Homo sapiens: one gene and its partners. The protein of the gene in region 2 purifies or fractionates together with the protein of the main gene of each other region. This does not show direct contact. Each region holds a gene or a part of one and is shown on either strand. Other genes may lie near its edges. The genes, in order: LRBA, CT55, NOPCHAP1 and BLTP3B.

Region 1 (7,133 bases), on a different chromosome or scaffold from region 2:
TTATTTTTTGAGATGCAGTCTCACTCTGTCGCCTAGGCTGGAGTGCAGTGGCACAATCTGAGTTCACTGCAACCTCCGCCTCCCAGGCTCAAGCAATTCTCCTGCCTCTGCCTCCTGAGTAGCTGGGATTAACAGGCGCCTACCACCAAGCCTGGCTACTTTTTGTATTTTTAGTAGGGACAGGGTTTCCCCATGTTAGCCAGGCTTGTCTCGAACTCCTGACCTCAAGTGATCCGCCTGCCTCGGCCTCCTAAAGTGCTGGGATTACAGGCGTGAGCCAATGCACCCGGCCAACTTATGTTTCAATTAATTTTCGTTAGTCGTAAGTTTTTAAAACAATAAAGGTAGTGGAGATACTGATTTTTTTTTCCTTTTAGGTTTCAAGAGGAGCTTTGCTTTAGGCTTGTTAAGCATAGGGTGGTTGAAGTATCATTTGTGTGGCACGACTTAGGTATTGGTATTTTCTTTTACCATTGTTCACTTAAGAAGTTTTCAAAGAGTAATATTCACAAGTTAATGAGGACATTAACAAACAAACAGTGAAGATGTTCATCAGTTAATTAATTTATCAGCAACTTGGGTATTTCTTTGATTCTAAAATGTACTTTCCCTCCCCCACATTTCACCGTCGTCTATTTATTTTCTTAATGATGGATCTCAGATGAAGTGGTACATAAAGTTCCTTGCTAGGCATTTGTAAGATTCAGGTCTAGGTCATTTGTGTGAGTCTCAGTAAGAAAGAGGAGAGATCTGGCCAAAGAAAGCTCATTTTCCTGTTTTCAGTCAGGAGGATCTCTCACATTGGTTATTGATCAAAAACTAGGACTGAATCAGAGTTTGACATTTTCTTTCTTTGTGAATCATTATTTTATTAATGATGTTTAAAATTTAGGAGCAAAAAAGGCATTTCCAACAATTCAATTACAGATGCCATTTTATTCAGCTTTTTCTGTCAAACTGAATTGTTCATTCCAAATCCTTGCTTTTAGAGAAGAGCTGAGTGTGTAGGAAAAAAAGAGGGACCACTTGAAGTCTGTTGCAAGAGAAATAGAGATCAAAGTTCACAACATACAAAGAATTTATTTATGCAATACAGGCCTTTTCTCAAATATTTTTCACAGAATTCCACACAGTAATCTACTAGAAAAGTAGAATTATACACCACCAAATAACATTGTTTCGTTTCTTAGTACAAATTGCTAATCAAAAGGAAGGTGGAGATGATAGTTTAATAACAAATAGTAAAACAGGTGTTGCTGAATACAGCACCCGGTAGCCTCTATTTGCAAACCCGGGGAGGGAAGGGGGTGCCCCAACAAAACAACAGTGGCTCCGCCTCATTGTCCAGGCACAGGCAAACCGCAGTAGTGAGCTTTGGTACTTGCATTTACTTTAAAAGAAAAACAAATGTTGTGAGCTCAAGAGCATTTCCATCATTTCGTTTTGTTGTGCTATGAAGATGACAGATCAGGAAAAAATGGTAACTATTTCACACTTGCTATAAATTAGATTCCTTGTGCTAACCACACAATAAAATAGCCTCCCCCAAACCATACTTTTCTAGGTCTAAAACATGCTTGAAGAACAATATTGATAGACAGACTTAATTGAGATGTTTTAAATTACATTTACCATAATTTAAACATTACTATTTAAATCCCAGAAATATTAGTGCTGAAGAAGCACAGTTGTTTGGAAAAATACAGGACCCAAATTACAGCATCAAATTTTCCTATTCCAATATTGTAACCCACTTCCCCACTGTGAAAATCCTATTTCTCAAGCTTGTAGATGCATGGGAAATGTTCTTCATAATATTATAGCTGGAATAAGTGGTTTACTTGCTCCACTGTATGTTTCCATAATTGGTGAAAATAGACTTCTCATTATGACTAAAAATATAGATTTTTTAAAACTACAGAACCCAGCAGCCAGTTTTCTGCTTTGCTAATCCCCCCCAAAAAAGTCAAGCAAAGACTACAAAAATAGCAATTATTAATAACTTTAAAAAATATTTTGCTTCTTTGAGCAAATTTAAGTTACATTCAGATGTGGTAGAAGAGAATGATGCTCCAGGTACTTCTGCTCATCCTAGGGGCAGAGTTGATGTACAGCTGTCACCATCAGTAGCGGGTTTGGTATTCATGATGCCACCGGTTAAAGTCGTTGTAAAATAGCACAATGCTTCCTGAAGCCATGCCAGAAATGATGCACCTAGGAGAAGCACAGAGAGAAGGACTTTTACAAACCTGTGTGTCCTAGAGATGTTACTAAAAACTGCTCTCCCCAAATCCACAAGGTAAATATAGAAGCTGGCAGTGAAGGCTCCAATTTGTGGGAACTAAGGTATGTATTTCATGACTAAAATGTATCCCTGAGTAAGCTCAGAGTACTGCCTCTGACACTCCACAAGGATCCAAGCCACAGCTTGCTTTTTCATTGAAAGGGTACGGACAGCTGGTATGTGCAGGATGAGTAACTAAAATCTGAACAGATTTGTAACTAAAATCTGAACAGATTTGGTAATTTCTAAAGGGGGACTGGGCTGGCAAGACCCATCCATTATATAAGCAACAGACTCAAAAGAAGGAACCACAATCTCAAAGTAACTGCTGGTGGAAAGAAGCAGCACACACTCAAGTGACAAGAGACACCACCTCTGACAGGTACAGAATCAATGAAGAGTGAAAAAGAAGAGTGTTGTTGACCATAATTTAAGCTGGTCTCCCCTCTGTGGAGAAGTAGTCTATGTCCATCATGCTCTGGGTGAGGACCTAGTCCTCGTAACACAGTAACTCACCGAAATCACTGAAGATAAGAACTTCTGCAAGCTTCTTGGTCTCCTGTCCCCAAAGAGGTGGTGCAGGGAAAGAGATGGAGAACATAGGTGAACCTAAACTGAGCATAGCCAGATTTTTCTCTGTGTAGTTTGGTTAGGACCAGCCCTTAGAAGCCATATTCAGTATCCTTCCTAGTACCTCGTATCAAAATTAATTAGGAACTAAAATGTGTCACTACAAAAAAAATCAACTAAAAACAAAGGAAGACAGTAAGGAGGAAATGAGAGACAAAACTCTAAGGCAGAGAGAAAATTAAATAGAAAAGTGGCAAAAGTCAGTCTTTCCTTATCAGTCATTAAAGAGATTAAATTCTCCAGCCAAAAGGAAGAGATTGGCAGAATGGATAAAAAACATGATCCAACTATATGCTGTCTACAGGAGACCCACTTGAGATCTAAAGACAAACATCTTGAAAGTGAAAGGATGGAAAAGATATTCCGTGTAAGTACTAGCAAAGAGAGCTGAGGTGGCTTACACTAATATCAGACAAAATAGTCTTTCAGTCAAAAACTGTTACAAGAGACAAAGGACACTACACTGAGAAAAGGGTAAATTCACAGAAATATAACAATTATATATGCATTTATCATCAGACCCCCAAGATACAAAGAGCAAATATTAACAGAATTGAAGGGAGAAATGGTTCTACAGTAATAGTTTTAGACGTCAATACCCCACTTTCAATAATGGGTGGAACAACCAGGTGGAAGATAAGGAAACAGGACACTTGAACAATACGATAAGCCAACTGGACCTGACACACGTATATAGAACACCTTCCCAACAACAATAGAATATACATTTTTTTGCAGTGCGCATGGAATAGTCTCCAAGATAAACCATATGTTAGGCCACAAGTGTTAATGACTTAGTAAAGATTAAAATCACAAAGTAGCTTTTCTGATCATAATAGAATGAAACTAGGTACCAATAACTGAAGGTAAACTAGAAAATTCACAAATATGTGGAAAGTAAATAAATGATGAGTCAAAAAAAACAAACAACAACATAAGAGACATCAGAAAATACTGAGACAAATGAAAAGGAAATACAACAAGCCAAAACTTATGAAATGCAGCAAAAGCAATGCTAAAATGGAAATTTTTAGCTGTAAACACATAGATTTAAAAATATCTCAAATCAATAACCTAACTTTACCTCTTAAGGAACTAGAAAACAGACAAAACCCCAGGCTAGGCAGAAGGAAGAAAATAATAAAGAACAGAGTAGAGAGAAATAAAGCAGAAAATAGTAAAATGATTGATAGGAAAAAACCCAAAAATTGGTTCTTTGAAAAAATAACAAAATTGACAAACCTCTAGCTAGACTAAGATGACTTGGCTGGGCATGGTGGATCATGCCTGTAATCCCAGCACTTTGGGAGGCCAAGGTGGGTGGATCACCTGGGGTCAGGAGTTCGAGACCAGCCTGGCCAACCCGGGGAAACCTCGTCTCTACTAAAAATACAAAAATTAACTGGGCGTGGTAGTGGGCACCTGTAATCCCAGCTACTTGGAAGGCTGAGGCAGGAGAATCACTTGAACCTGGGAAGCAGAGGTTGCAGTGAGCTGAGATTGCACCATTGCACTCCAGCCTGGGTGATAGAGTGAGACTCCATCTCAAAAAAAAAAAAAAAATGACTCAAATTACTAAAATCAGAAATAAAAGTTGGGACATTACTGATTTGGCAGAAACTGAGTTCAGAGAGACTATTAGAAACAACTGTATACCAACAAATAGGGCAACCTAGATGAAATAGACAAATTCCTGAAAACAGTATACCAAAACTGAATGAAGAAATAGAAATGATTAGACTTATGACAAGTGAAGAGATTGAATCAGTAATCAAAAACCTCCCAATAAGAAAAGTCCTAGACAAGATGGCTTCACTGATGAATTCTACCAAACATTTAAAGAAGTATTAACACCAATCCTTCTCAATTTCTTCTTCCAAAAAATTAAAGAATCCAGAACACTTCCTAAGTGATTCAATAAGGCCAGTATTACCATGACACCAAAGCCAGTTGAAGACATTACAACAAAAGAACACACAGACCAGGATACAAAATACTAGCAAACTGAATTCACTAGCATGGTAGTGGGAATGTACACCATGACCCAGTGGGATTCATTCTGGGAATGCAAGGATGACTCACCATGCAAAAGTCAACCAACATATAACATACTACATTAACAGAACAAACAACAAAACAAGCCCACATGATCATCTCAACTGATGCTGGAAAATTTGACATGTGACAAAATTCATCATCCTTTTATTATGAAAACAATAGGAGTAGAAGGAAACTACCTCAAATGATAAACAGCATGTATGAATAACTCACAGCTAACACCACACTCGATGAAAAAAAGTTTTTCCCCTATGATTGGGAACAAGGCAAGGATGCCCACTTTAATCACTCTTATCCAACAGTACTGAAAGTCCTAGACAGAGCAATTACACAAGAAAAAAGTATCCAAATTGGAAAGGAGGAGTGAAACTGTCTCTGTTTACAGATGACATGATCTTGTATGTAGGAAATCCTAAAAATTCCACACCAAAACAAAACAAAAGAGCTAATAAATGAATTCAGCAAATTTGCAGGATATACAACACGAAAATCAGTTGCATTTTTATACACTAACAAACAATGAGCAGTCCAAAAGGAAAATTAAGAATTGCAGTGAGCCGAGATCATGCCATTGCACTCCAGCCTGGGTGACAGAGCGAAACAGAAACCCCTAACAGCCAAAACAATCTTGAAAAAGAAGAAATATGTTAGCAGTTGCACATTTTCTGATTTGAAAACTTACTTACTGTTGTTACAATGCGACAGTAATCAAAACATTGTCACACTGATATAGGCAGACCAACAGAAGAGAAAGTTGAGAAATAATCCCTCACATATGTGCTCAAATAGGGTGCCAAGACCTTTCAACGGAGAAAGCACCTTCTTTTCAACAAATTATGCTGGGAAAATAGGATGTCCACATGCAAAACAATGAAGGTGGACTCTTACCTACCATTATATTAAAAAACTAAAAACAGATCAAAAACCTAAATACAAATTAAAACTATAAAACTTTTAGATGAAAACATATGGGAAAACCTTCATGACCTTGGATTTTGCAGTGGCTTCTTGGATATGATATCAAAACAAAAGAGACAAGATAACAAAACAAACTCATAACAAAAAATAGGACTTCATAAAATGTAAAATCAGGGCTAGGTATAGTGGCTTATGGCTATAATCCCATCCCTTTGGGTGGCTGAGTCAGCAGGATTGTTTGTTTGAGCCCAGGAGTTTAAGACCAGCCTGGGCAACATAGTGAGACCCTGTCTCTACAGAAAATAAAAAAGCTGGGCATGGTGGCACATGCCTGGAGTACCAGCTACCATGTAGCTGAGGCGGGAGAATCATTTGAGCCCAGGAGGTTGAGGCTTCAGTGAGCTGTGATTGTGCCACTGCACTCCAGTCTGGGCAAAAGAGTGAGACCCTGTCTCAAAAAACAAACAAAAAGTAAAATCTTTTGAGCATCTAAGGATATTAGGAAGAGAGTGAAAAGACAACATCACTGATCATTAGGGAAATCAAAACCACAATGAGAGACCACGCCTGTTAGGACAACTGTTAAAAAATAGAGCAAGGTGTTGATAAGGATGTGGAGAAATTGGAACCCATGTAAAATGGTACAGCCACTGTGGAAAACACTTTAGGGTTTCCTCAAAAAGTCAAACGGAATTGCCATATAACCCAGCAATTCCACTCCTGGGCATACACCCAAAAGGACTGTAAAAAGGGACTTGAATAGATATTTGTATGATAATGTTCATAGCAGCATTACTCACCATAGCCAAAAGGTAGAAACAACCCAAGTGTCCATCATCAACAGGTGAACGATAAACAGAACACAGAATATTCATATAATATTCTGATACGTGCTACGACATGCAAGAACCTTGAAAGTGTTATGCCAAGTGAAATAAGCCAGGCACAACACAACAAATATTGTATGATTCCACTTAACAGAAGGTGCTTAGAAGAGGCAAATTCATAGAGACAGAAAGTAGCATGCACATGAGCTGGTGGGAGAGAGAGTCATTAACATGCAGAGCTTCTGTTTATGATGAAAAGGGTCTGGAAATGGATGATGGTGATGGTGGCACAACACTGTAAATGTACATAATGCCACTAAATTATATATCGAAAAGAGTTTAGATGGAAAATATTATATGTTGCCACAATTTTTTTTAAAAGGAACAAAAATGAGTGACTATACGTTAAGAGGAAA
Region 2 (6,142 bases):
AAGCAAAGCAGTTCTGGGCTTTGCTATTTGAAAGAAGATAGAGGAAATGTATCCAATCCCTGCCCCACTGCCCAGCTGAACTGCTGCCTCCCAGGTGATCTTCAGTCCTGTGAGGAAGTTTGTGAAACAGTGGCTGTGACTGAATCATCAGCTGATTGGGCTTATCATAATACATTGTAACTCCCAAAGAACATTCTTCCACATCAAACAAACTGCAGAATTAAATGGGGAGGTAGTGAAAGTCATGACCCTTGCATCTCTCAAGTCCAACGTGGACTGCTCTGTAATTCCACAGGGTGTGGGGTTGCTTTTGAATGACGACATTCACAGGGACCTGGTGTTGCCACAGCTCCCACTTACCCCTTTCAATCATAGGAGCTACTGCTGCATGGGTCAGGAAGCCGAGGACGGTGGGGGTGCCGGGGGGGTGGGGTTGGGGCATTGAAAGAACACAATTCCATTAGGGCCTGGAATTTTGTCCTTTTGGTTAAGGATATAACTCTAGAGCCTCAACAGTGCCTGGCACATCAAAGAGAATCAGTAGGATTTTGTGGAGTGAACCAGTGAGTGAAAATGGGAACTTTACAAGACCTTCACTGTTTCTATCAAGCGGGAAACAAATCCCTGGATAACTGAGAGGTCTCACTGGATCTGTAGTGGAAAGTCAAAACACAACTCTGTTTATTCAAGGACCGGTGGTAATGGTGGAATTATGAATCACAGGACTCAGGGTAAGTTTACAACGACACTCAAGCTATGCCCAAAGGTCTGAATATATCCCTTCCCCTAGGTCACAGCTACCTGGTTAAATATTCTATTAGAAGAAAGCATGAAGTTTCCTGGAGTTTACTTGTGGGATTTTAGTATAACCTTTCCCAGTGGGTAAGCAGCTTGTCCTTCCCTCAAGGGGCTCTGTGTTTGTACGTTTCTTCGTGACTTCACATGAGCTGCACCCCTGCAACAAAGTGGCTCACAGAGGCTCATGTACAGCAGAGTCGACTTTCTATGGTTGTTGGTGTTGTTTAAAAATCAACAGAGAGGTCTTAGTGCATTGCTCAACAATTTTATTCCTAAGGAACCAGTGATGAATGAACCACAGGTAAGTATCATTGCTGGCCCAGTCATTCAGTCATTGAACTTAATAACATTTTATCTGCTCATTGAGTCTGCCAGGCACTCTTCTAAGTGCTTGGTGATGCTTTAATGACAACAGAAAAAAAAAAAGAAAGAAAAAAGAAAAAAAAAAACCAGATTAAAAGACATCCTGCCATTGTGGAGTTTACATTCTAGCATGGGGAAGAAGGAACAAGTAAAACAACAAACACCGCAAGTTATGTGGGTGACAGAAGATGAAAGAGGCTATGGAACAATACAGGTTGTACAGGCAGCATAACGGGGCTCAAAACTGAAGTCAAATTGTAACTTTAAATCATGCCTTTAACATGCTGTCCCTGATGCCTTTTCAGTTAAATGCTTTGGCTCCGACGTTCCCTTTTGGGCCGTCCCAGGCCTCCGTCATCCTGGAATCCGCTGCTGCTAATGGGAAATATGGAATTCAAATTTAATGGCCGTGTTCATTTTAATTAAGAACTCCTTTCCTCCAGTGACTAGCAAGCTAATTTAGCATGCTTTTTAATTAATAAGTTATTTCCCTAAGCTGGGTTCCTGGTCCAGTTGGACTGGCCAGTGTCTCAATTAGATTTGCCAGAAAAGTCATATATAAAATACTATTTAGGCTTACTAAGCTAACCTTTTAAGTTAAACCAGCCCCTTTACTGCTCATAAAAGGAAAGATAAACAGAATAAAAATGCTTTGTCATTACGATTTATGCACTGGGGTGATAGAAATCGCTCTCCAAATAAAGCAGAACTGAATGCTCTCCACCATGACCACATTGACGATATCATCTACTTGAGGTACGTATCCATCAGGAAGTTTCACAGAATCCAAGGTGAAAAAAATAGTATAATCTATCACCCCATTTCTTCCATGTACGCTAGTAATGCAGACCTGTGAGTATAAATAATGGAAATGATTATGGAAAAGCCCAATAAGCACTGTAACCAGCTTTGCACCTCCTCACCCTGGGTCCTGCATGAGTGCAGGTCACTTCGATGCAAATCATTGATTTCCAACCTGGTTGGCCCATTGCTAACACCAGGGGTGCTTTGTAAGGATACCCATGTCCACGCTCCACCTCAGACCAATTAAATCAGACTCTCTGGGAATGAGGCCTGGGTCTCTGATGAGAAATCCTGCTCTAAATATTACCAAAATATGTCCATTACCCTCTGTTGCCTTGAATTGCCTGTGCATATTCAGGCTTTAATAACCAAATCATTCTTAGCATCTACTGGTCAGCTCAAGTCCCACAACACACTCCGTTCATTCTTTCCCTATAGTTTTCTGGCACAAAGATTGTTTTTCTTCCTCCTGTCCTTGGAAGATTCTAATAACATTTGGGTATCGAGTAAAATGCACAATTTAGAACTTAATCATGTGCTTGTTCTATATAATTTTCTAATTATTTCCTTTGGAAAATTCTGCCTTTTCAATAAGAAAAGTGGCTCCTTTGTTGGCAAAGAATGTATTTCTTCATATTTTCTGGAATTCCCATTATACCCAACAGAATCCTGGTCACGTAAATTATCACCAAAGGAAGAGTTAGCAGAAACTGCTGACGGGAGCAACAGGAAAGAAATTACCTCTTCCGTATGAATACAACGGATGGGCTTCACAGAAGTTGCCTTGATGTTTGAGATGCCTGGCTCAGTGGAATATTCAACTTCTAACAAGTCACCCTTATAAGGCACAAAATCTAAAACAGCCATGGAGAAATGTGAGTGTCATGATCTCTTAACTAGGTCACTTTTAATTTCACATGTTATTTGATAGTGTACTACTTTAAAGTCAGTTCTGCTAAATCTAAAGTCCATTTTGTGCATATTTAAACAGACACTACAAATCTCTAAGTCCAAAAAGAAGTTTATAATCCTTAGGCATTGATTCTCCTCTACTGATTTAACAAATTTAAATGGAGGAAAGTGTGAAGCATGCATCACAGCCAATATGAGGGAGCAGCACAGGATTTACTAAACAACTGTTAGTGTTCACAATTGCTTAGTGAGAGGCAGTCAAACATATAGGTAAGAGCACAAGTTTGAACCTGGCTATGTGGCTTCGAATCTTGACACTGCCACTCACTCAGTTGGCAACCTTAGCCAAGGTGGTTAATCTGTCTGTGCCTCGATTTCTTCATCTATAAAATGAGAAGCACAGTAAGTAGCCTTCATGGTACACAGCTGCCTTGAGAATTAGTTGATATGTGTGATACGCACAGAATCATCGCTGGCGCATAGCAACCACCAAATAACTGTTGATTGGTAGTAGTGGTAGCAGTACCGCTAGGAAATGTTGTTACTTTCAGAATGAATCAATTTCCCCTGGTGTTGTGTTCAACTAATGAACTCTTAAGTATGTGCCTTACAGGTTACAGTTAAGACCATCAAGTTTCAAACAGAAGTTTGCAATAAGTTAAAAGTGAGTCACAGGATAACAAAGTTACGTGAAAGAATCTGGAGCAAGTGGAAATCCCAACTGCAACTGAGACAGTAAATTGCCACAATGAAAACTAGTGATATCAACAAAGTTAAACATTTCTTCACCTTAGGACCCAACACTGTAGAATGACATAAGACACTGTGTTAGACCTGTTCTCTCTCTCTCTCTCTCTCTCTCTCTCTCTCTCTGATAATTTACATACATTTCTTTTGTGTGGATTTGACATATATCTATATGCTTATAACTCCAAAATGTATATGCCTCCAGTTCTAACCAACCTCAGGGTCAATTATCCATATGCTTACACCAATCTAACGTGTGTAAAGCTGAGTTGTTGGTATTCTCCATATTCACCAACTTTTGTTTGCCTCAGTCGTCTACATCACAAACTGGCAACTCCACTCTCACAACTGCTCAAATCAAAAACTTTGGAGGTACCTTAGACTCATTTTCCCTCCACAACAAAGATCTAATCCATTACCTCCTGGGTTCTTCTCTCACTTCAAAATATATCCAGAGTCAACTCAATCCTCAGGTTTTCCACTTCTCCATTTTCATTCACATCTCCATCATCTCTCACCAGGAATATTACAACGTTTTCCTGACTGATTTCCTGACTCCACCCTTCCCCTCATAGTCTCTTCTCAACAAAGCAGACAGAGTCAGCATCGTCAAACAAAATGCAGGTCAGAATCCTGCTTTTGCACCCAAGAAAACAAACTAGCAAGCTGCCTGGGGAAGCGGAGCTAATCTCTCCATTTATACCCAAGCTATACGACAGCTGCAGTAGACAAAACAGACAAAAAAATATCGTTGGGTAGAAGCTAAATATTAGAATATATCTGCCGATTACAAAGAGAATTCAACAACAACACACACACACACACACACACACACAAACAGACAACCACAAGGCGCTATCTCCAATCCTAAGTTTGAAGCATTTGAAGTGTATTCTTTTAAAATTTGGTAGTCTACCTTGTCACAGAAACTTCTCTAGTAACCAACTACAGAAATGATGCCTGCAAGTATAGTCTTTGAAGGGTATTAAAAATAGTGTCTCTATGCACTTGTAGGATTGTTTTCTTGATTAGAAATTAAATTCTCATATGAATGAATAGTATATCCAGGCATTACTGAGGGCATTGAACAAATGAACACACAATAACCAACAGCACACAATTTATAATACTGTCTATTTGCCCCTATACTGTACTTAATTTCGATTGGAACAGTCTACCTCTAACACTGAAGAGCCATTGACTGAAGCCAAGTACACTGTAAAAGTTGTTCCAGGACTAAAATCCTCTCAAAAAATTAAGAATTACATCATATATTTCAAAATATAAATCATACCTTCAGAAACAATGGCTATGGAAAAATAAATGCTGTTACTAATATAAATATTATCTTCATTTATAGAAGTAACACATCCAATTAAAACTCTGGTTCCTGAGTCTGAGGGTCCAGCACCATAAAGATGGCGAGGCACAACATCCACCTGTAAGATTTAGGAAAGAGTTTACTTCAAAAACAATACAAATTTAAACATGGAACTTACATGATTAAAAGACTTGTATTCAAAAATATTTTCAACAGCCATCCTAAACACTGGAGAATATAGTTCACTTGGTAAGTGGACCATTGACTTGAGATGACAGTAAAAGTCATGTGCGTGCTTCAAGAATTGTGAAATGTATCCCAAAACATTAATTGCATACCCAAGTTTAATGTCCTTGTACCATTAGATTCCAAGATTAAAATAATACCGTCCTTCGCCTGCAGAAATTCACAGTGAAATGACGGTAAAGTGGAAAGGTATATAGTCATAAGCAGGTTGCGATGAAGGATATAAAACTAGTTCAAAGATGGTTTCTGTGAATTATCTAGAGGGAGAACATTTCAGACAGGGAGAAAATAGAAGCATTGTTTAGGGGAAGTCAGATTTGTGCTGGGTTGGGAAAGAAGACGGGGTAAAGGAGCAGGGAGGCAGAGAGAAAAAACAACAGAAGTTAGGAGCCTAGGGAGCAAAACCCTAACATCCGAGATCCAGGCCTAGGAGACAGAAGCATGAGATAAAGTTGGAGCAATAACCTCAACTGGGGGAGGTTCGAAAAACCAAGTCAAATTAGGGCTTTACTTTATCTACAATAGAGAGGCATACAAACCTTTTCCCTTGTTGGAAGTGTAATAGTCCTTATTTTATAATCCTTAAAACTTACAAAAATAGTGTAAGCTTGTTATACTAAAAGTAGGAAAGAAAACAGATAAGCAGACAGCAAAAAGCAGTTACCCCACAATCCATAATTCATTACCAAGAGATCACCAGGGACTACATTTTTGGCAGTAACACTCATCCTGATGTTTTTGTCTGTGCACAAATATATATACATGTGTAAATGCCTGTTTTAAAAGCAAATTAGCATGGTATTCAGTGTTAAAGTATCACATTAAATGAACACAAAAGTTTTTAAATAACAAGAGAGGACGGAAAGAGTCATAGGGAATCCCAATTAATGGATGTGCCGTAATTTACTAACCCAATTTCACATAATTAGACATTTCACTTGTGTCATAGCA
Region 3 (8,022 bases), on a different chromosome or scaffold from region 2:
TGTAAGAGGTGGGACCTTTAGGAGGTGATTAGGTCATGAAGGTAGAACCCTTATGAATGAGATGATGCCCTTATAAAGCTGCCTTGTCCCTTCTACCATGTGAGAATGCAGCAAGAAGGGGCCCTCTATGAATCAGAGTGTGAGCCCTCACCAGAAACCAAATCTCCTAGTACTTTGGTCTTGCACTTTCCAGCCTCTAGAACTGTGAGAAATACATTTCTTTTATTTATAAGCTACCCAGTTTATGGCATTTTGTTATAGCAGCCCAAATGGAGGAAGACACCAATTTACATCTAATGTCATTACTGAAATGAGTATCGCTTACCTGTACTATGACATTGTTTTCTATTTGTCCCAAATGTTCTTTGTTCCTCTTTATTTTTTATGTTGCTTTCTTTTGGATTAATTGAATGTATTTTATGGCACCATTTTTTTTTTGGAAACGGAGTCTCACTCTGCTGCCCAGGCTGGAGTACAGTGGCATGATCTCGGCTCACTGCAACCTCCACCTCCCAGGTTCAAGCAATTCTCCTGCCTCAGCCTCCCAAGTAGCTGGGACTACAGGTGCATGCCACCAGGCCCAGCTAATTTTTTATGTTTTTAGTAGAAACAGGGTTTCACCATGTTGCCCAGGCTGGTCTCGAATTCCTGAGCTCAGATAATCCGCCCACCTCGGCCTCCCAAAGTGCTAGTATACAGGCGTGAGCCACTGCGCCCGGCCTATGGCTCCATTTTATCTTCACTATTGGCTGATTAGATATCGGTCTTTTTAATTTTTTTTGTAGTTGCTCTAGTATTTACAATATAAAATTTTAACTTATCACCATCTATTTTCAAACCCTACTAAAAACACTTCACATAAAATATAAGATCCTTACAACATTTATTTCCATTTACCACCTCCATTTTCTGTGCTATTCTTGCCATACTTTTTGCTTCTATATTTGTTATAAACCCCACGATACATATTTTTTTGCTTTAAACACTCAATTATCTTTTAAAGAGATTAGAAGTAGAGAAACTATGTTTTATATTTACCTTCATATTTTACAAAACTGCTCTTTTGGTTAACAACATAATTTTCTGGAAGGGAGACTAAATTCTGCCAGTGCATTTTCTACACTATCTTGGAAAGATCTGAATGTCTTCATTTCTAAGCTATTCTTACAAACTAGCAGTGTTGACATAGTTTGGATGTGTGTCCCTGCCCAAATCTTATGTTGAAATGTAATCCCCAGTATTAGAGGTGGGGCCTGGTAAGAGGTGATTGGGTTATGGGGGTGGATTTCTCATGAATGGTTTCGTACCGTCCTCACGATACTGAGTGTGGCAACTTGCTCACTCTCTCTCTCTCTTTTTTTTTTTTTTTTTTAAGATGAAGTCTCACTGTGTTGCCCAGCCTGGAGTGCAGTGGCATGATCTCGGCTCACTGCAACCTCTTCATCCCTGACTCAAGTGATCCTCCTGCTTCAGCCTCCCAAGTAGCTGGGATTACAGGCACCTGCCACCATGCCTGGCTAATTTTTGTGTTTTTCATAGAGACGGGGTTTCACCATGTTGGCCAGGCTGGTCTCGAACTCCTGAACTCAGGTGATCCACCCACCTTGGCCTCCCAAAGTGCTGGGATTACAGGTGTGAGCCACCACGCCTGGCCACCTTGCTCAGTCTTCCTTGCTCCTGCTCTGGCCATGTGATGTGCCTGCTCCCCCTTTGCCTTCTACCATGACTGTTGGTTTCCTGAAGCCCCCACCAAGAAGCTTAGCAGATGCTAGCATCATGTTTCCTGTACAATCTGCAGAATGGTGAGCCAATTAAACCACTTTTATTTATACATTTCCCAGTCTTGGCTATTTCCTTATAGCAATGCAAGAACAGGCTAATACAAATGCCCCACTCATTTTGTATGGCGCTGCACCTGTGGGGTACTTCAGATCTCAACCAACCATTCACAAAAGTGATTTGAGGAAATTTCCAGTGTCTAGAATCCAGGTTTGTTGAGGTGGTCAATCAATCAAACAGTTAATTAACAATTATACATTTGTTCATCTTCTTTTTGTTCTTTCATTCATCAAACACAGATTAATCATTAACTGTGTACCTATTACAAGCTCAGTGCTGGGAATGCAAAGGATCTCTAGATTTAATAGGTTTTAACTGGAAGTAGGAAGATAGTGAAATAACTTTTAAAATGCATTAATCAGTTTTTTTTTTTTTTTTTTTTTTTCTGAGATGGAGTCTCGCTCTGTTGCCCAGGCTGGACTGCAGTGGCGTGATCTCGGCTCACTGCAAGCTCCACCTCCTGGGTTCATGCCATTCTCCTACCTCAGCCTCCCGAGTAGCTGGGACTACAGACGCCCACCACCGCGCCCGGCTAATTTTTTGTATTTTTAGTAGAGACGGGGTTTCACCCTGTTAGCCAGTATGGTCTTGATCTCCTGACCTCGTGATCCGCCCGCCTCAGCCTCCCAAAGTGCTGGGATTCCAGGAATGAGCCACCGCACCAGGCCCATTAATCAGTGTTTTCTTCCTCAGTGCCTACTGTTATTTCTGTCATAATTCTTTGTGGCCTAGCTTTTGTAACTTCGTATAATATAGTGTTAATTTATTATGATGAACATAATAATGCTGCTACCAGTGAGATGGTATTATACCTCGACCTTGACCCCCTTCATGGGCAGGAACTGGAATGGCTCATTTCACTTAGCCTGCTGCTTGTCACTCCTCACAAGAGGGAGCGTGCAAGTGAGTGCAGGACCCAGAGCGAAAATACGAATGCTGGAACTCACCGGTCACTCCTCTCTGGTGAGAGCAGGCTGTGTGTGGGCTCTGGAGCAATGTCCCAGCCCCTGCCCTCATGGGTTCTTGTCTGCTGTCCAGAAAGAATCAGGTCACATGAACGGACTGAAGGGTAGTATATGTGGAGGATTTTATTGGGCAATGGATGTGGCTCTCAGTGGAATGGGGAATAGGAAAGGGGATGGTGGGGGAAGAAGGTGATCTTTCCCTGAAGTCGCACCATCTGAAGTTGGCCGCAGCTATCTGTAGTCTCTTCTTGTATCCCCAACACTTAGCCATTCATATTGCTCTGTCAGCTGGTCCTTTTATGGGCGCAGGATATGGGAATGGCAGGCTAAAAAGGCAACATTTGGGCGAAAAATGGGGTCAGCTATTGTCACTTAGGGCCACAGTTCCATGCTTTAGAGTGGGGTTTAGCTGGGAGCCCAATAATTCTGTATCACCAGTGCCATTACATACATTTTACTCCTTTTCCTCTTTTATTCCTTATAACATCCCCATGAAGTATTATTATCCTGATTCTGCAGAGAAGGACAGACGCTCAGGGAGTGATCTGCCCAAAGTCACAGCTACTAAATGAATAATATGACACTGGATTTAATCCACTCCAGGCTGATTCTGGAGCCTCTGCACTGTCAGAAATAAGCAGAAAAGATTGGTCCAAGGTTTCTGCTGCTTCTGCTTTGAATCCTATATAAGAGGGGTCTGGGCATACTGCAGGTGGTCAATAAAGACTGTTAAAAGAACAAACAGGAAAGGAAGCAATAGAGTGAAAAGGCAACCTACAGAATGGGAGAAAATATTTGTAAATCATATATCCGATAAAGGGTTAATATCCAGAATATATAAATAACTCCTACAACTCAACAACAAAAACACAAATAACCAGATTAAAAAATGGGTAAAGGAGTTGAATAGTCATTTCTCCAAAGAAGATATATAAATGGCCAACAAGCCCATGAAAAGGTGTTCAGCATCACTAAATCATTAGAGAAATGCAAACCAAAACTTCAAGATATCACTTCACACTCACTGGGATGCTCACTGTCAAAAAGAAAGAAGCAACCAAACAGAAAAAGGAAATATTGACAAGGATGTGGAGAAATTGGAACTCTTGTGCACTGTGGGAATGTAAAATGGTGCAGCCACTATGAAAAACTATACGGAGGCTTCACAAAAACCTAAAAAGTAGAATTACCCTATTATCCAGTAATCCCATGTCTGGGTATGTATCCCAAAGCATTGAAAAGCAGGGTCTCTAAGAGATATTTGTACCACCATGTTCATTGCAGCAGCGTTCACAATGACCACGAGGTGGAAGCAACCAGCACGCCTGTTGAGAGATCAATGGTAAGAAAATGTGGTATATACATACAATGGCATATTATTCAGGCTTAAAAAAGAAGAGAATCCTGTTATGTGCTACAACATGTCTAAACCTTGAGGGTATTATTTTAAGTGAAATTAGTAACAAAAAGGCAAGTACTGTATGATTCCACCTACATAATGTATCTGAAGTAGTCAAGCTCATAGTAACAGAAAGTAGAACGATGGTAGCTGGGCATGATGGCTCACGCCTGTAATCCCAGCACTTTGGGAGGCCAAGGTGGGTGGATCTCCCGAGGTCAGGAAATCAAGATCAGCCCGGCCAACATGGTGAAAACCCGTCTCTATACAAAAATACAAAAATTAGCCGGGCGTGGTAGTGTGCACCTGTAATCTTAGCTACTTGGGAGGCTGAGGCACCAGCCTGGGCGACAGAGCAAGGCTGTTTCAAAAAGAAAGAAACAAAGAAGAAAGTAGAATGGTGGTTACCAAGGGACTGGAGTAGGGGTAAATGGGTATAAGGTTTCAGTTTTGCAAGATGAAAATGATCTAGAGGTCTGCCACCACTGAATTGTACAACTAAAAATGGTTAAGATGGTAGATTTTGTTACGTGTTTTTTCACCAATTAAAAAAAAATTTAATAAAAAAGGATAAAGAGGAGGGAAGCCTAATGTTATGCTCTTTATGCCCGAATTTGGCGAAATCGAGCCTTGCCCGCTGTTTTTTCCTATGACAGTGTCTGAACCTTTCTTTTTCCCAGGAGTAGGAATGGCCCCTGCTCCCGCGCAGCCTCCAGGCTGCACCACGCTCGCCCCGCCTCTCTCTCCGCTCCTTACTCCGCCCACCGCAGTTTCCTCCAATCGCGGCCCTCTCCCCGCCCCCTTACCCGAGCCTTTTTCCTGCATCCGGGCCTGAGAGTGCAGGCTTGAGGGAAGCATGGAGGTCCATGGCAAGCCCAAGGCTAGCCCGAGTTGTTCGTCGCCCACCCGGGATTCCTCAGGAGTCCCAGTGTCCAAGGAGCTGCTGACGGCGGGAAGCGACGGCCGCGGAGGTGACGGACGGGTGACGGCGGCATGGGCCGCACACGTGCGGCAGAGGAGGCGCGGCCGGTGCAGTTTGGGAGCCGGCCGGTGGCTCCCTGCCCGGGCTCCGTACCCTCGAGGGGAGCCCCGGGGACTGCTGCGGGGCTCCGGCGTGCCCTGCCCGCGGCAGGGGTGGGGGCTTTGGGGCGGGCACCCGGCTGCGGGCCCGGAATGGTTTCCCCAGCTAGTGGTTCTTATATTCTGCAAGGTAGTGAGCGCCCACCCTGCCAGGCGCCGCTGCCAGGCATCTGCCCTGCCCTGGAAGCTGGGAAGCTCTCGAGTTCTTTTGGGGAAGGGAGGGCTTTTGGTTTGGCTGCCTGGGTCGGAGCAGTTGGCTGATAGGGGGAAGCGGAGTAATATTATGCTAACAGTCCCTACCTCTTTCACACCCACACAGACCACCCCTTAGTGCTGCTGTCTTGTAGAGGGAGACATGCATCCAGGAAATCCACACAGCATTTCAGACACTATAGGTAGAATTTAAAAGCACGAGTTCGAATCCCAGCTCCACTAGTAATTAACTGGTGGGACTTAGAGTTATTTTCATTCCCTAAGCCTCAGTTTTTGCATTTGGAAAATGGTGATAGTAGTAATGCCTGTAGAATTTTTGTGAGGAGGAGAATGCCTAAAAAGGCTTGGGCATGTTGTCAGTAAATACTAGCTTGAAGAAAAGGTTTTGTGAGAACCCAGAGATTCCGAAGGAAGTATAATAATGATAACCAAAGCTTATGTAGTCCTTACTATGTATGCCCCAGAAACTAACTCATCTAATCCTCACAACAACCCTTTGCAGAAAATCTGTTATCTCTGTTTTATAGTTGAGGAACCTGAGACATGATTTATCATACAGGTAATTTACCTTCTGGAGATCATGTGGCTAGAAAGTAGCAAAACTGGGACTTGAATTCAAGTAGTCTGGCTCCAGACTCTGTGCTCTGATCACGAATCCAGTAGGCCTTAAGTAGTAGGCATTCAATGGATGTTTGTTGCGGCTCTGCTTTGCAGGTGAACAGGATTTGTTTTTTAACCAGAGAGTTAAGGGATTTTCCGGGTATTAGAAATAGGGTGTGCAAAGCCTTGAGTTTTGTACGTTCCCCTCTTGGAACTCTGATGGGATAGAGAGTTGGGATGATTTGAGTAGTGAGAAATGAGGCTGGAAAGGTAGAGTGGGTGACAAAATCCCCAAAAGGCTGCTTTCCTTGGGTTGAACGTCTTCAGGGAAGGGGAAATACCAGGCAAGCATGTTTTACTAATGAAGAAACAAATGCTTGAAGATCAGGTAAGTTGCCCAGTGTTACACAACTAGTAACCATTTCTGGCTTCACTTAACCATTGTTATGCTCTGTACTGTTTCCTCCGTTCTGTCATTGCAGACCCACGTTTGTCTGCTAATGAATTTCTGATCCAGAAAAGTGCAGATTGGTGTGCATTTATTACCTGCCATTGGTGATAGAGGTGAATGAGACAGATGTAAGAAAGGAGAGGTGGCTGGCTGTACATAAAGAATTAAAATGTTGTAATGGAGCTTGGAGTTCTCCTTTAAAAAAAAAATTTTGGGGGAGTGTGGACAGTCAAGTCTTAAGACTGGTCATGTGAGAGGCTTACTGATGGGCCTTTGTTTTTTTATGCTGTAGTAAATTAAGGGTGTTTGTGTGTCTGTATTTTCAGGTATATGGGACAGGTTGCTCATCAACTCCCAACCTAAGTCCAGAAAGACCTCCACTCTTCAAACAGTTCGGATAGAGAGGAGTCCCTGTAAGTACCTCTTCCCCTCTCTCACCCTCTCTAATGCTGAGTTTTGTCTGATTAAGCTGTGGGACGGTCTCTGCCTTCATTGTCAGGTATCAAACCACAGATAGTCCAGTGGAACAAGTCCTACTTGGGATTTACATGATAAAGTCAGTACACAGAATGGAACTTCTTACATTATTTCTCTACTTTAAGAGGGTAACTTTTTCGTGAAAAATTGCTTGTGGGTTGAATTTTGGGAAGTCAAAAACAATTGTTAATCTCCATGGCAAATTTATTTAGAGGTTACTGAGCCTCAAACTTAATATATATGGATGGAAAACCACAACCACATCCCATTGAATTGGACACAATTATTTAAATGATAAATATTACTTAGAATACAGCATAATGGCCAGTTCTCTTTATTATTCTGTAGTATTGCTGTACTGCACATTCATAAGTATGTCCCACACTCAGACTTTATTACACGAATGCCCTCTATGTAATTCACTCTTAATATTAAAAAAAGGCAAAAATTCAATAAAAACAATGTAAATAAGCATGAAGGTAATGAAGGTATCACATCAATAAACTAAGAAATCATGAGTACTCTGAAAGGAGAATTTAACTGTAGCATCATTACTGTAGCACTAAATCTACAATAGCTGAAATGACCATATGGTGGCTGCCCATCCAAAAACCAGTTTTTGTGGATATAGGTTTTTGTTTTGAGGGATTACATACCTAGGAGTGGAATTGCGGGTATATAGAAGGTGTAATTTTTTTTTTTTTTTTACGAAGAAGAAATTGCTATTTTGCATTTCCACCAGCAAGGTATGAGAGTTTAGTTGCTGCACATCCTAACCAAAATGTGGTATGGCCTTTTTAATTTTAGCTGTTCTAGTGTGGATATAGTGGTATCGCGTTGTGATCTTAATTTGTTTCTAATGGCTAATAATGTTGAGCATCTTTTCATGTGTCACTATTTGTATGTCTTTGGTGAAGTGCCTATTCAAATCTTAAACACATTTAAAAAATCAGGTTTCTTATTGTAAACATCATTCTTGATAGTGCAGCTCTGCTGGA
Region 4 (8,027 bases), on a different chromosome or scaffold from region 2:
GAGGTTGCAGTAAGCTGAGATTGCGCCACTGCACTCCAGCCTGGCGACAGAGCAAGACTCCATCTCGAAAAAATGAAATACATTGGTTTGGTCCAGAAGGGCAAGACAAGTCAAAGGAGGGGAGCTTCCAGGCTATAGGTAAATTTAAACATTTTCTGGTTGACAATTGGTTGACTTTGTCTAAAGACCTGGATGATCTGGTTAAGATAAAAGATCGTGGAGACCAAAGTTCTTTTGAAGTCTTAATGTGGCTGCCCTTAGAGACAATAGATGACAAATGTTTCGTATTCAGACCTTTAAAAGGTGATAGACTCTTAGTTAATCTCTTCAGGATTGAGAGGGCCTGTAAGAAAAAAACCTAACTATGTTAATAGAGATTCTTTATAGATGCAAATTTTCCCCCACAAAGAATGGCTTTGCAGGACCATTTCAAAATATGGCAAAGAAACATGTTTTGGGGTAAAATATTTTGACTTTCTCCTTTGTCACTGATAAAACAGGATGAGGTAAAGAAGCTGGCCAAAACCCATCAAAACCAAGATGGTCATGAAAGCAACCTCTGGTCATCCTCACTGCTCATTAAACACTAATTATAATATATTTGCATACTAAAGGAAACTCCCATCAGGGCCATGACAGTTTACAAATGCCATGGTAACATGGAGAAATTACCCTATATGATCTGAAAGGGGGAGGAACTCTCAGTTCCAGGAACTCCCTGCACCCTTACTAGAAAACTCATGAATATGTACCCTTTGTTTAGCATATAATCAAGAAATAACCATAAGTATAGTTGGGCAGCCCATGCTGCTACTCTGCTTATGGCGTAGCTATCCTTTTATTTCTTTACTTTCTTAACAAACTTGGTTTCACTTTACTCTTGTCAGCTTGGTCTTGAATTCTTTCCTGCAGAAGGCAGGAACCCAAGTAGCCTCCCAGCCTGAACCCCAATTTGGGGGTCACCCTACCACAACCAGCATAGCTAAATATCTGCAGAGTTCAGTTTTGATATGGACAGGAGACAGGGAAATACTGGGTAGAACAGAGTGGTTCCCTGGCAAATGCCCTACTCTCAAGCCTGGAAACCCACCGTCCTAAATGGGAACAGGCATTTCTGTTTTTGTGCTCAAAAGTTGCCTTTTGGCCTGCCACAGCACCCTATCTTGTATCCATAGAAAGCCCAAACCCCAGGCTCCACAAGCAGATGAGCAGACAAGGAGATGAACAGATGAGCAGAAGAATGGCAGACCAGTGCAGCAGAGACAAGAGAAGTAGTGACTGAACGCTGAGAAGAGTTTGGCCACTGGATGGCCAAATTCCAGGGGAAGATCATCTTCCCACTCCATCCCCTTTCCAGCTTCCCATCCATCCTGTTGAGAGCCACCTCTACCACTCAATAAAACCCCACATTCACCGTCCTTCAAGTCCCTGTGTGACCTCTTTCTGGATGCCTGACAATGACCTGGATACTAAGAGGGCACTGAGCTAGTTAACACTTAAGCTATCTGTGGACAACAAAGCTAAAAGAGTGCAGTGTAACGCATGCCCACTTGGGCTTCAGGAGTTGCAGTTACCCACCCCTAGACGCTACCATGGGGCCAGAGTTCAAAAGTCCTTGCTCCGGCTTCTGCACTTGCCCATCTGTGTGCTCCCTGTCCTATTAGGGGTTTGCATGTGCTCGGTAGCCAAGCAGATGAGCCACCCCCCTGTGTACTTCGTGCATTAGTGTTAGTCCTGCGAGTGAAGTCAGGGAACCCTCCTGCTTCAGTTTTAAATCCAAGTCTTTGATTTCAGGGTCCATTTTTTTAAAAAAATTAAATGGATTTATTCATATCTTTGAAATAATACCTCTACTATAAGTCTGTCCCCAAATGAATTACTCCTTCCTCTGTGTTCTTATAGCACTTTGCTTGTTTTTGGTAAAGTAATTAATAATACCTAGCCTTTATTGAGTTTGCTATAAGGCAGGTTAACAGTAGCTACTAATAATAATATCTCTTAACACATGAGATCACTGAAGCTGAGAAAGATTAATTTGCTGAAGTTTACACAGTTATAAAGTGGCCAGCATTTGAACCAGAGTCTACTAACAGAGCTGAAGGTGTAAGTAACATGAGTCTGCCTTCCAAGCCAGGCCGTTAACTCTGATGGCAGGAACAGAGATTTTTGTTTTCATTTAGGCAACCCCAGGATACTTGAATAGTGCCTGGTTTATAATCTATGATAAATGTTGAGTGTAGTCAGCTGGGTGTGGTGGCTGATGCCTGTAATCCCAACACTTTGGAAGGCTGAGGCGGGCGGATCACGTGAGGTCAGGAGTTCGAGACCAGCCTGGCCAACATGGTGAAACTCCGTCTCTACTAAAAATACAAAAATTAGCCTGGTAATCCCAGCTACTTGGGAGGCTGAGGCAGGAGAACTGATTGAACCTGGGAGGCGGAGGTCGCAGCGAGCCAAGATCGTGCTGCTGCATTCCAGCCTGAGCGATGGAGTAAGACTGTCTCAAAAATAAAATAAAAATAAAATGAAATGTTGAGTGTAGTCAACTTACACGTCTATCCTTTCCATTCTTCAAAAAGGGCCAGCTTATTGGACTATGTGTAAACTACTTCCCACCCAACTCCCAAGATGTACAACCACACATCTTGCTAATACATCCCTCAGGGGTGGTACAATTTCTTTTCCTGTTTTAGATATCACTAGTGTTAAAAGAAAAACTTCAGCCAAATTAAATTTAAAGGAGTTTAACAATGAACGATTCCTGAGTCTGGCAGCCCCCATAATCACAGCAGATTCAGAGAGACTCCAGCACAGCCACATGCTGGGAGCAGATTTCTGGCCAGCAAAAGGAAAGTGAGGTCTAGAAAATGGAAGTGAGGTACAGAAACAACTGGATTGCTTACAGCTCAGTGTTTGCCTTATTTGAACACAGTCTGAACAGTTGGCTACATCTGGCCAAAACTCAGTGATTGGCACAGGTGTGGGCTATGGTCGGTTTATACCTCTGCTTATTTTCATAAGTTCATGATGTACAGAAAAACCTTTAGGCTGAACTCAATTACGTAAGGAGGCAGTGTTAGGCTAAACTTGACTTAACACTGAGTAATTTTTTTTTTTTTTGAGACAGTCTTGCTCTGTCGCCCAGGCTGGAGTGCAGTGGCTTGATCTCAGCTCACTGCAACATTTGCCTCCCGGGTTCAAGCAATTCTCCTGCCTCAGCCTCCTGAGTAGCTGGGATTACAGGCGCCCGCCACTATGCCCAGCTAATTTTTGTATTTTTTTTTTGTAGACACAGAGTTTCACCATGTTGGTCAGGCTGGTCTTGAACTCCTGACCTCAAGTGATCTGCCTGCCTCGGCCTCCCAAAGTGCTGGGATGACAGAAGTCGTCATTTTAATCTCTGAAAATGTTAGCTCTGTTTGGGATTGGGTGGGGTGGAGGTGTAGAATTGTAACAGTTTTCCCTAGTTCAACAATTTCCTTCCTTCCTTACAGAACTTTTCATATGATATTTACACCTTTAGGTTCAACCTAGTGAAGTGGGTAAGGCTGATGATTAATCTATTTCACAGATGATTAAAATGAAACTAATAGTAAAGAAATTATTTTCCCCAGGATAACACAGCTAGAAAATACCAGAGCCAGGACTTGAATTATACACCTTCTAATTCCTAGGTCCTAGACTACTAGGAACCATTGTCAACCTTTACTTCCCTTAGAATAGCAATAACCAAAGGAAACATTAAATTGCCACATTTAGGTAAGGGAAAGGCAGGACACCTTAACAAAAGAAAAAAAAAAAACACCAAAAACAAAAACCTAAGGAAGAATATGAAGAAAGGTGAGTAGGTCAAGAGAGCAAAGCAAGCACAGGAGTTAATGGCCGATTCTTAAAACATTCTAAGGAGGCCGGGTGCAGTGGCTCACGCCTGTAATGTCAGCACTTTGGGAGGCTAGGAGGGTGGATCACGAGGTGAGAAGTTCGAGACCTACTGGCCAATATGGTGAAACCTCGTCTCTAATAATACAAAAATTAGCCGGCCGTGGTGGTGCGCACCTGTAATCCCAGCTACTCAGGAGGCTGAAGCAGGAGAATCGCTTGAACCCTGGAGGTGGAGGTTGCAATGAGCCGAGATCGTACCACTGGACTCCAGCCTGTGTGACAGAGCAAGACTTGTCTCAAAAAAAAAAACAAACAAGCAAAAAAATAAAAAACATTCTGAGGAAATGAATAAGGGAAGTAGGACGTGGAAGTAAAAATCAGCGACGGGTCAGCGATGGAGGCGGGAACACCAGCAGAGGGAAGGAGGGAGGATTAAGGCCAAGAAGGATGGTGTATTGAGAGTCAAGGGCCCTGTGTCGCGAGGGCTAAGAACCCTGGCGCCAATGCCACAAACCTCCCGCCCCCGCCCAGAGCCCAGCCAGAGCCCAGCCAGAGCCCGCCCAGAGCCCGCCCAGAGCCGGCGTTGGCCCCGCCCCGCCTCGTGCCGGCCCCGCCTGGAGCCGCCCCGCCCCCGCCCTCCACCGAGTCTCTTAGGTGATGCTGCAGCCAAGATGGCGCCCGCGGCGGCCGTGGCGGCCTGAGCGTGATGCTCCGGGTTCTCGGCGGCGGCTGTGGCCTTGGCCGGGGCCTTGGGTCTCTCCCGGTCGTGAGCGATCAGCGCCTCTCCGCCGGCCGGGCTAGCCGGGACAGAGAGGAGACGGCCACGAAGAGAGGAGGCAGTGAGCAACAGGACGAGACCGCGGCGTCTCCAGCCTCGGTACCATGGCCGGGATCATCAAGAAACAAATCTTGAAGCACCTCTCCAGGTCAGTGAGCGCCTCGGTGTCGGCGCCAGTCGGCCTCCACCCCAGCCCGCACTGGAGTCAGCCTGCGGCTTCGGGGGCGGCGGCGCCTGGCGGCTGTGCGGGAGGCGACCTTCGGACTTCCCCGCTCTGGCCGGGGCAGAGGTCGCGGCCCCGGATCTCTTGTCGCCGGCGGCGCCGGGGGCTGGCCTCACGAATCGGCCCCTGACGCGTCTTCTCCCAGGGTGGGCGCGCGGAGGAGCCCGGAGTGCGGAGCGCGGCGGGCTGGGATCGCTCCCGGCGCGGCGTCTGGGGGCGTCCCGGCTCGGCTCTGTGCGGTACTGAGCGGAGGCTGGAGGTGGCCTGGCGTCACCCAAGTGCCTGGTTAATGTGCTGGGCTCTAACTCGAGTTCGGTGCTCCTTCCCCTTGGAGCAGAGCGGTTCCGTTAACCGAGGGCTTCTGGCGCAGTGTGGACGCTCAGTGGAGGCTGTGTTCTCAGTGGAACGTTAACCTTGTGATTGTTCTGAATTCCTCCCACCTTGGCGTTCCCGCTCTGTGGCATCAGAGGGTGTGCCTGTTTGCACAGTTAGGATTTGTTTTAGGTAAATAAGCAGAGTTCGCAGCTTTGGCAGGTTCTTTCTGGAGTCCTATGAGACCCACATCATTATTACTGAACATTTTTTTTTTTTGGTTTTTGCTCTTTTTCCTCTGCAACTCTAAAATTCAGGGAGTTAACATCTGTGGTGATTAAACCCAAGACATGTCATTCTCTCCATTTCATAACGCGGTTTTAGTCAGAAACATGACTCAGTAAGGCTGGCAGTTTGTTACTGCTCTTGGCTTCTCCGTGTTTGTCTCAAGACACAGGCTAAATGTAGGCTCTTGTTCCAAGTTGTTACCAGCGAACTCAAAGCCCTTGGTTAGGATCCCTTTCTGTTCGATTTGTAAGTTAATTTTAACTAATTTTGGGAAGACACGGGTATGATTATAGACTTGTATAGTAAACATAATTCTTGATTCCCCAGATTGTCTTATACCACAGGTTATATATTGGGAACAGAATTCTACTTCTGTGATTCAGCAAATATTTTCCTCACTTATAATACTGAATAAGATATAGCACTTTTCTTAAAAGTAGCAAAGTATAGCAGCGTGTGTGTGTGTGTGTACATATATATACATATGTACATATATACATATACATATATACACATATATACACATACATATATATGTGTACTACATATATATGTGTATACACTACACATATATATGTGTATATATGTAGTATTTTTTTAGTAGAGACTGGGTTTCACCAGGCCAGGCTGGTCTTGAACTCCCAACCTCAGGTGATCCGCGGTCCTCGGCCTCCCAGAGTGCTGGGATTACAGGTGTGAGCCCCCACGCCCTGCATGAATATGTATTTCTTAATGTTATCACTCATTGAAAAGTTTCTTTTAAAATTATATATATGGCCCAATCTTGAACTATCTTATTTTGGAAGGTTTTATCTATTTTTAATTTATGTCCTCCCGCCTTTCTCATACCCAGCTCCACAAGAAAATACAGATCTGCAGAAAATGATTTGAATGCCTACTTTCTCACTCGTCCAAGGATGATGCTGCATAGCTAGTACCACTCTAGATGCTTGGAAGAAAAGTTAATTCAATCAACAGATAGTGCATTAGAGTTTAATTCTTTTATAGAACTCCATTTGAGAGGGGCTCTTAAAAATTAAGAGCATGCATACCAAAGTATAATAAAAAAAATTAAGAACAAAGATGTAATGGCTTACTGCATGAGATAGAAAACACCCATATATTGAAAATTGAGTCTTTAGGGCTAGTTTTTATTTTATTTTATATATATATATATATATATATATTTTTTTTTTTTTTTTTTTTTTTTTTGAGACAGAGTCTCACTCTGTTTCCCAGACTGGAGTGCAATGGCATGATCTCGGCTCACGGCAGCCTCTGCCTCCTGGCTTCAATCAGTTCTCCTGCCTCAGCCTCCCGAGTAGCTGGGATTACAGGCATGCGCCACCACGCCTGGCTAATTTTGTATTTTTAGTAGAGACAGGGTTTTTCCATGGTGGTTAGGCTGGTCTCAAACTCCCAACCTCAGGTGATCCGCCTGCCTTGGCCTCCCAAAGTGCTGGGATTACAGGTGTGAGCCACCGTGCCTGGCCCTTAGGGTTAGTTTCTAAATCTGTATGATTTGTAATAGCTGTGTGATAAATAGTGTGATGAGGATTTTTTTTTTTTTCAGAGATGAGTTTTTGGGACACTTGAGTTTTCAGTTATTTCATATTTCAAAACATCCTTAACTCAGGTGACTAAAGAGTATCAAATTTTTATTTTTGGTTAATAAGTTAATCTTACTGCTAATTGCTGTCATCTCCTAAGAAAAATAGTTATTCAGAAATCTAAAGGCAGCTCGTAATTGACAAAAGAAGGCAGGTGTTGTGATAAATTATAGTTACTCAGGAAGGAATGAACTTTTGAAATTACCTGGTTCAAGTTTAATTTTATAGAATATCCAGTAATGAAGATGTCACTACATTGACCTAGTGGTCTGGGATACAGTAGAATATAGTTTACCAGGAAATAGTTGAACATACTAGTTTCTAATACTAGACATCATGTGAGGCCTGTGTATGCAACCCATTGCACCTTCTCAAAGGTGACCTTTCCTGACCACAGAGTTTAAAATTGTGAGCCCCCATATTGCCAGTCCTCTTGCTTGCATTATTTTTCTCCATAGCACTCATGCTTGTCTGTCGTACATATTTATTTCTTTATGTATTTTTGTCTTTCTCCACTTAAATGTAGACTCTATGAGAGCAGGGATTTTTGTCTTGAGGCTGGCATAAAGTAGGTACTCAACAACTATTTGTTGCATGAATGTGGATACATAACATGAATGAGCTTACTTTCTCTTACATTGCTTTTTTTTACTGAGGCAAGACTACTGCCAATATTCTTATAGATTTGGGAATGACCAGTTTCCCTGTGGCTTTAGGAGGCAGTGAGTAATTGAATCATTAAATAAATGTGGTGCCTTTGGATCCTGGAAAATAACTAGGAAAATGACCTAGTTCTTACAGGGGTTTATATGAGGGGTCTTCCGGTAAGGAAATAACCCAGTTATTGTATGGGGGGAGGAGTTCTGCCAGTAAGGAGGAAGACTGTGAACCAACATGAGAAAGAGCTCTCATTTTTAGCCTTGAGGTTGAAATA

Evidence for each region.
Region 1: the proteins of CT55 (region 2) and LRBA purify together in Homo sapiens (affinity purification with mass spectrometry; 3 studies listed by BioGRID and IntAct, with this or other methods). This does not show direct contact.
Region 3: the proteins of CT55 (region 2) and NOPCHAP1 purify together in Homo sapiens (affinity purification with mass spectrometry; 3 studies listed by BioGRID and IntAct, with this or other methods). This does not show direct contact.
Region 4: the proteins of CT55 (region 2) and BLTP3B purify together in Homo sapiens (affinity purification with mass spectrometry; 3 studies listed by BioGRID and IntAct, with this or other methods). This does not show direct contact.

Annotation. Positions count from the first base shown.
Region 1 is NC_000004.12:150,263,599-150,270,731, forward strand, and holds the end of LRBA (lipopolysaccharide-responsive and beige-like anchor protein), read right to left. Parts: intron 2,215-7,133; coding exon 2,124-2,214; 3' UTR 837-2,123; downstream 1-836. UniProt on the Homo sapiens protein: Involved in coupling signal transduction and vesicle trafficking to enable polarized secretion and/or membrane deposition of immune effector molecules. Involved in phagophore growth during mitophagy by regulating ATG9A trafficking to mitochondria.
Region 2 is NC_000023.11:135,155,493-135,161,634, forward strand, and holds the end of CT55 (cancer/testis antigen 55), read right to left. Parts: intron 5,064-6,142; coding exon 4,919-5,063; intron 2,820-4,918; coding exon 2,707-2,819; intron 2,012-2,706; coding exon 1,824-2,011; coding exon of another isoform or gene 1,820-1,823; exon of another isoform or gene 1,537-1,819; coding exon 1,467-1,536; 3' UTR 1,048-1,466; downstream 1-1,047. UniProt on the Homo sapiens protein: Plays a role in spermatogenesis, possibly acting in the regulation of the autophagy pathway.
Region 3 is NC_000012.12:104,981,294-104,989,315, forward strand, and holds the start of NOPCHAP1 (NOP protein chaperone 1), read left to right. Parts: upstream 1-5,022; 5' UTR 5,023-5,059; coding exon 5,060-5,174; intron 5,175-6,873; coding exon 6,874-6,960; intron 6,961-8,022. UniProt on the Homo sapiens protein: Client-loading PAQosome/R2TP complex cofactor that selects NOP58 to promote box C/D small nucleolar ribonucleoprotein (snoRNP) assembly. Acts as a bridge between NOP58 and the R2TP complex via RUVBL1:RUVBL2.
Region 4 is NC_000012.12:100,139,373-100,147,399, reverse strand, and holds the start of BLTP3B (bridge-like lipid transfer protein family member 3B), read left to right. Parts: upstream 1-4,525; 5' UTR 4,526-4,764; coding exon 4,765-4,808; intron 4,809-5,634; exon of another isoform or gene 5,635-5,729; intron 5,730-8,027. UniProt on the Homo sapiens protein: Tube-forming lipid transport protein which mediates the transfer of lipids between membranes at organelle contact sites. Required for retrograde traffic of vesicle clusters in the early endocytic pathway to the Golgi complex.